Homo sapiens: one gene and its partner. The protein of the gene in region 1 purifies or fractionates together with the protein of each later gene. This does not show direct contact. Each region holds a gene or a part of one and is shown in the gene's direction. Other genes may lie near its edges.

Region 1 (4,010 bases):
GTTGGCCAGGCTGCTGTCGAACTCCTGACCTCAGGTGATCCTGACCTCAGGTGATCCACTCGCCTCAGCCTCCCAGAGTGCAGGGATTACAGGTGTGAGCCACAGAGCCCGGCCTCTTAACTCTATTTCCACAAGAGTTTTTCCTGTTAGTTACTGATTACCCATTGTGTCTTTTTCCTCGAATCACCTGGGAGGAACTATCTTTAAATAAGTGTCGTCCTGTAATGCACTACGGCCGTCTGTGGGTTACCACATTAAGGATAGTTGTCAGTGGCCTCCATGCCTTTCGGTAAGTTGTTTTTTTTTTTTTTTTTGAGACAGAGTCTCATTCGTCGTCGAGGCTGGAGTGCAGTGGCACTGTGTCGGCTCACTGCAACCTCTGTCTTTCCTGGGTTCAAGCAATTCTCCTGCCTCAGCCTCCTGCATAGCTGGGATTGCAGGCATCCACCACCGCACCCGGCTAATTTTTTGTATTTTTAGTAGAGACAGGGTTTCACCATGTTAACCAGGATGATCTCCTGACCTCCTGAACTGCCCGCCTCGGCCTCCCAAAGTGCTGGGATTACAGGCGTGGTGAGCTGCCACGCCGGGCGTACTCTGGCTTTTAAAAGAATGGGGCACATTGCTTTTTCTTGACTACTTCTATCTCTCCTTTTCTCTCTCTCTCTAACTCTGTCTCTCTCTCTCTCTGGCTCTCTCTGTCTCTTTGACTCTGTCTCTCTCTGTCTGTCTCTGTCTCACTCTCTAACTCTGTCTCTCTCTCTGACTCTGTCTCTGCCTGTCTCTCTCTCTCTTTGACTCTCTCTCTCTCTCTGACTTCCTCTGTTCCCTCTGTCAGTCTTTCTCTCTCTTTGACTCTGTCTCTCTGACTCTGTCTCTCTCTCTCTCTGACTCTCTCTCTCTCTCTGACTTTCTCTGTTCCTTCTGTCAGTCTTTCTCTTTCCTCTAAGATTTTTTTCCCTTTCTCTTAGAATCTCTTCTACAGGCTTATTTTTCTAGTTCTTTCTTTTGTAATTTGTGGTTAATATCTGGCCAACTGTTAGTGACAAATTCCTTGCCCAAGAGGATCCTCGACACCTCGACCAGCATATTTTCTCATTTGTTCTTTTAATCTGTCTAAAAATTATGTCGCAGGCCCTTTATCTTTTCCTTGCTGTATGTTAAATATTCGGGTAAGATTCTGGGTTCCGGGCATGGATTCTTTAATCCCCTTCATGATTAACTCCCCAAGGTCCTGCATATTTTCTCAATGGGCCACCGCGCCCGGCCAGAAGATTTTTATGGTAAAATTTTGTGATGGGAAAACTCATCCCGGAAAATGTTGAGACCTGATGCTGAGTCCTCAGCAGCTCAGAGAATACGTACTTCTGTCCCAGGTCACCCAAACATTGACCTGTGTCGGTTCCCCACTAGGAACAAAATGTAACTGAGGACGTTGTCAGATGCTTGTCCTCGTCACCCTGAGCTTGTTGGCTGCTATCTAATTCTTATTCTTTCATTTTCTTGCCCGCACGTTCTTGATAGCAGATCACTGACAACAGCCATTGGAAGCTTAGGAAAAGGGTATGTGCCGGGCGCGGTGGCTCACACCTGTAATCCCAGCACTTTGGGAGGCTGAGGTGGGCGGATCACGAGGTCAGGAGATCGAGACCATCCTGGCTAACACGGTGAAACCGTCTCTACTAAAACTACAAAAATTAGCCGGGTGTGGTGGCGGTCGCCTGTAGTCCCAGCTACTCGGGAGGCTGAGGCAGGAGAGTGACGTGAACCCGAGAGGTAGAGCTTGCAGTAAGCAGAGATCATGCCACTGCACTCCAGCCTGGGCCAGAATGAGACTCCGTCTCAAAAAAAAAAAAAAAAAAAGCATGTGTAACGTGAAAAAATGGACACTTTAGCCATCGCCTGACTTTCTGTTGAATTGGGAAAGAGCCTCCTCCCGTCCACATGGGATGGCCTTCCTGATGTGGCTCTCCAAGACCATCCCTGGAGGGCATAAAACCTCACAAATGCATCAGGCCGTGTGCTGGGGATGGGGCATCGTCACGCCAGGTCTGACTAGGAAGGAGGATGGGGAGGCAGGGCTGGGGGCTTTGAGGTCGAGGCGTGGCCGTGGATTCCAGAAAGCCCCTTGGCTGGTGTGCGTGCCTGCCCAGCGGCATCCGTGTATCCTAACACCTGCCCTCCGTGTCCCTGCATCTGCAGGCCATGTCAAAGGACGCCCTGAATCTGGCGCAGATGCAGGAGCAGACGCTGCAGTTGGAGCAACAGTCCAAGCTCAAAGTGAGTGGGGCCGGTGTGGGCGGGGAGGCCGGGGCACACATGGGGTTCGGGCGTGGAGATTGGTAGGGCTACTGCCGGTGGGTAGGGCCGGGGGTGTGTACATGGGCAGCAGTGGGGCCCAGGGCCAAGCTTGGGCGCCTCATTTCACAGAAGGAAACAAGGGGAGGTGAGAGACGCTGCCGCAGAGCCGCCCGAGAGGGAGGGCCGGTGTTGGTGAGGGCGTCTGGTCGTCCTGAGGGCCTGGATCTTCTTGACATTCTCACCTCATTTCTTTGACTCAGCAGGATTTTTTTTTTTTTTGAGATGGTGTCTTGCTCTGTCGCCCAGGCTGGAGTGCAGTGGTGCGACCTTGGCTCACTGCAAGCTCCACCTCCCGGGTTCACACCATTCTCCTGCCTCAGCCTCCTGAGGAGCTGGGACTACAGGCACCTGCCACCACGCCCAGCTAATTTTTTTTGTATATTTAGTAGAGATGGGGTTTCAGCGTGTCAGCCAGGATGGTGTCGATTTCCTGATCTCCGCCTGCCTCAGCCTCCCAAAGTGCTGGGATTACAGGCGTGAGCCACCGCGTCCAGCTCAGCAAGATTTTTTAATTTTATTTATTTTGAAACGGAGTCTCACTCTGTTGCCCAGGCTGGAGTGCAATGGTGCGATCTCAGCTCACCGCAACCTCTGCCTCCTGGGTTCAAGCCATTCTCCTGCCTCAGCCTCCCAAGTCGCTGGGATTACAGGCACCCACCACCATACTCGGCTAATTTTTGTATTTTTATTAGAGACAGGGTTTCACCATGCTGGCCAGGCTAGTTTTGAACTCCTGACCTCAAGTGATCACCTGCGTCGGCCTCCCAAAGTGCTGGGATTACAGGTGTGAGCCACGGTGCCCGGCCGGTCACCTTCAGTCCTGAGCTCACAGGCGGGGTTCACGTGTTGCCTGTTGTGGGCATTGTAGCTTTAACGTTTAATTGGCAGAAGACAGAAGCTTCCTTAAGCCCAGCCTGAATCAGGGCAGTGGTGTTGGGAGGTCGGCCAGCAGTGGCCCTTGTCAGGGAAGCCACAGTGGGGGCTGTTTCTGCCGCTGGGGAGTTTGGGCCCCTGAACCCATCCCCTCAGTGACTGCCGTCCCGGCCGATGTCACCCGTGTCTGTGTCAGGGTGCGGCGTCTGCAGGTCCCCAGGTGCCCGGGACGCTTGGAGCCCTGCGGTCCTGGGGCGGACGCAACCTCTGGATTGGTGTTGAGCATTTTTCTGGTTTTAAAGGCTTTTCTCTTTTTCTGCGGCTTCTTCTCAGCAACTTGTCAATGAGGATTTACGGAAGCAGGAGGAGTCCGTGCAGAAGCACCATCAGACCTTCTTGGAGTCCATCAGGTGAGCGCTGCCGAGGCCCGGGCCGGCCGCAGATGGAGCCCCCACAGGTGTGAGTCGCTGGTCCCAGGGTGCTCTCCAGCTCTCCCAGGTCTGGCCGCTGTAGGCTGGCTCCTTGGTGGGGACACTGCCCCCCTGTCCTGGCAGGACCAGGCTGCTGTGTCAAGGCCTCACCCTCAACCTGTTCTTGCTACGTGGCGTGGGTCTTTGTTTCCCTCCTGGTCACACCACTGCTTTCCCCACAGGGCGGCTGGCACCTTGTTTGGGGAAGGATTCCGTGCCTTTGTGACAGACCGGGACAAAGTGACAGCCACGGTAAACATACTCATAAAACAGGGCTGGCAGGTGGCTGAGGGGCAGCATGTGGGG
Region 2 (3,500 bases), on another chromosome or scaffold:
CTGCCTGAGGGTGTTCAGCAGCATTGAGGAAAACCCAGAGATCCTCACTTCAGGGGACATCAGCGCAGCAACGCTCTGCCTCGCCATGGAGAGGCCTGGCCTTGGGGGTGGGGGTGCGGGGCTCGGCCTCCCTCCTTGAGCCTCCTTTTCTGAGCAGTTTGGAGTCCGGGGTCCTTGCATCTTGTAGTCCAGCAGTCTTTGCCTTCACACCCTCGGTCCTTTGAAAAGCTATGACAGTACCCTGAGGTGGGCAGGTGGGAACCCGGGGACAGAGGCGTTGGGGGAGAGGAGGGTCTCAGGGCTGTGAAGCATGTGCCAGAAACTGATGGCCACGGCTGTCCTGAGGCTGGCAGGGCGCGCGTGTCCTGCAGCTGTGGAGGATGACAGGTGTTGGGGGCCCACTCAGGCCAACTCCCTCGTTGACTTCCTCTCCCCTTTGAGGTAGGGTCAGGGTGCCCCGGCACTGTGACGAGCAGGCCTCATGCGGCCAGGCCTGGGGGACATGGTGAGGACAGGGCTGAGGGCAGACCCAGGTGGCCTACTCTCCTGCGACCATCTGTGTCATGGCCTTTGCAGGGCTCTGATTTTCTTCTGATCACCCTGGTGTGGATGTTGGCTGGGTTGAGGCTGGCGGCCTGTGCTGTCTGGCGCACTCTTCTGTCCACTGAGAAGGGAGCAGGTGCTATCAATGGAAATGGGACCCTGGCTGTGGGGAAACGTGTGTCGGGATGGAGGCGCTGTGCAGGGCAGGGCAGCAGGTCGGCTGTGTGCCAGGCCCCCGTCATGCTCTGTCCAAGCCAGGATGGGCCCAGCATGTGGTTTTCTGTGCACCTGGTTTCTTTCCAGCCGCTCCCTCCATTCCCAGCTGTCCTGGAGGTGGGTCCTCAAGGGTCCCCCATTCTGTCCTGGCCCCGCCTTTGTGGGCCTTTCTGGTTCTGTGAAGGCCCCCCCCGCCGCCAGCTTGCGGAGGCCTCTGTCCTCTCTGGAGGGTGGAACCTGTGCACCGGGGCCAGCCCCCTGCTCACCTTGGCCTGGCGGTCCCCTCTGTCCCCTCCATCCCCTCTGTCTCCTCTGTCCCCTCTGTCCCGGTGCTGTCCTGGGGCTCTCTAGTGAGGGTGGTCTGTTGTCCTCCCCAGGATGGGCCTGCAGGACCCCTGACGTGGATGCCTCTTGGGGTCTCACCTGCATGGTATCTGAGGCCTTTTGCAGAAGGAGCCTCTGGGTTTGACTGACGGAAGTGTTCACTGTTCTCAGAGAGAAAATGATGAGGAGATGAAGGCTGCCAAAGAGAAGCTGAAGTACTGGCAGCGGCTGCGGCACGACCTGGAGCGCGCTCGCCTGCTGATCGAGCTGCTGCGCAAGCGGGAGAAGCTCAAGCGTGAGCAGGTGGGGCTGGGCCTGTCCCGCGTGGAGTGCACCACTGGCCACGGGGCGTGGGTGGGACGCTGGCAGCTCCTGCAGAGGGTGGGCTGCACCCGGTGGGTCCTGGCCCACAGCAGTGCCTTGCTCAGCCCAGGCTGGGTGCCTGGCTGCCATGGGTTGCAGAGCCCTAAGTGGAGGCTGCGTTGTCCTATGCCTGGACGGAAGCACAGGAGCCTGTGGGGGCTGCTTGTGGCTGTGGGGCGCGTGGTGGGGCTGAGACGCATGTGCGGCTCCCTAAAGCTGAGGCTCTGCTGGGCCCCCCCAGGTGAAGGTGGAGCAGGTCGCCATGGAGCTGCGGCTGACCCCGCTGACGGTGCTGCTGCGCTCAGTGCTGGACCAGCTGCAAGACAAGGACCCCGCCAGGATATTTGCGCAGCCCGTGAGTCTGAAGGAGGTGGGTGTTTGCGGCGCTCGTCTGTCCTGCCGCATGTGTGACTGTGGATTTGTGCTGCCGTTTGACCGGGAAACGTGTGATTGGCTAGAGTACATCCCTTGTGTTCTTAATTCTCGTTTTTATTTAACGTATTTGTTTTTAAATTATAAAAGTGATACATTTCATTGTAAAATACTGAAAGTGCAGTGGGCAAGAGGCCCTGTGCAGACAGTACCCTGGGCTGTGGCAGCATCCGCCCGGCACCCTCCAGCGTGCTTTAGCTGAAGGAGCTGGGGTCGGGAAGGTCCCTGCAGTACTTGGGTCTTATGTCTGTACCGTCTGCGTGTCTGTGTGTGGCTCTCAGATAGGATGGGCTTGTGGGTTATATGGAATAATAAATATAGAGTCAACTAATATCCTGTTTTAGTTTGTAAATGATTCTTTTTCCTCCCTAAAATTAGGTACCAGATTATTTGGATCACATTAAACATCCCATGGACTTTGCCACAATGAGGAAACGGTTAGAAGCTCAAGGGTATAAAAACCTCCATGAGTTTGAGGAGGATTTTGATCTCATTATAGATAACTGCATGAAGTACAATGCCAGGGACACCGTGTTCTATAGAGCCGCGGTGAGGCTGCGCGATCAGGGAGGTGTTGTTCTGAGGCAGGCCCGGCGCGAGGTGGACAGCATCGGCTTGGAAGAGGCCTCGGGGATGCACCTGCCTGAGCGGCCTGCTGCGGCACCGCGGCGGCCTTTCTCCTGGGAAGACGGTAAGAACTGGCGCCGTGTCCGGAGGAGGTGGAAGACGCTCTTTCTAGCAGACTCTGTCCTGCTCTGTGTTGCCAGCTCCCTATCAGCATGGTCCGGGAGCCACTAGCATGCAACCGCATACATCATTTACATTTTCTAGTAGCCTCACTGAAAAATGGAAAAGAAGCAGGTGGAATTTACTTTAATAATATGTCTTATTTTACTCAGTGTATGGAAGAGTTGATTTCAACATGGGATCGGTAAACGTTACTGAGGATATATAAGCTTTTCACCTTCTTTGCCATCTGATGTGTATTTTACGCTCAGCACCTGTCACTTCAGACTGGCTGCGTTTTGGGTGCCCACCAAGAGGACTGTGTGGCTGTGGCTCCCTATGGGGTGGCCGGTCTCGACGATGCAGACCCAGAAAGCAGCTTAGTTGGGGGTTTTCATCCAGAGTGGGCCTCGGCTAACTTCTGAGGGTGGCGTGAAGCCGGAGGATCTCTGGCTTTGCCTCCAGCCCTTTAACTTCGTGGTTTGCGCATGTTGTAGAAAGGGCTCTGGGAGTGTGTCCACGGCCCACCTGGACTCCAGCCTGGGCTTGTGCTTCTTGGTTGCCCAGGCACGTGTTGCAGCCATGTGTAGTCACCTGCACCCTTCTCTAGACTGGTCCTCGGAAACCGGGGCTGTCCCCTGCACCCTGCTTGTTAGTCGCACCTCTGGGATTGTCTGTCGAAGGGTGTGTCCTGCCCACATGGGTTGTCAAAGCACATAGAGCTCCAGCACCTCAGCTCCAGCTCTGAGCCACAAACTGAGCAGAAATCACGGTGTGTTTGGCTTATTTGTCTAAAGGTCCCATATCCCTGATTTCTTGGCCTACCCTTTCTCTTGATGAATCACTGACCCGTGCTAGGTCGCTTCTTCTGGGATGAGGCCTGGCCCTCTTCCTCT

What was found. Proteins that work in one complex are often made in the same cells at the same time.
Region 2: the proteins of ATAD3C (region 1) and BRD1 purify together in Homo sapiens (affinity purification with mass spectrometry; one large-scale study listed by BioGRID and IntAct). This does not show direct contact.

Annotation. Positions count from the first base shown.
Region 1 is NC_000001.11:1,448,479-1,452,488, forward strand, and holds the start of ATAD3C (ATPase family AAA domain-containing protein 3C), read left to right. Parts: upstream 1-1,210; 5' UTR 1,211-2,205; coding exon 2,206-2,280; intron 2,281-3,567; coding exon 3,568-3,644; intron 3,645-3,886; coding exon 3,887-3,956; intron 3,957-4,010.
Region 2 is NC_000022.11:49,796,874-49,800,373, reverse strand, and holds part of BRD1 (bromodomain-containing protein 1), read left to right. Parts: intron 1-1,254; coding exon 1,255-1,386; intron 1,387-1,687; coding exon 1,688-1,816; intron 1,817-2,256; coding exon 2,257-2,569; intron 2,570-3,500. UniProt on the Homo sapiens protein: Scaffold subunit of various histone acetyltransferase (HAT) complexes, such as the MOZ/MORF and HBO1 complexes, that acts as a regulator of hematopoiesis.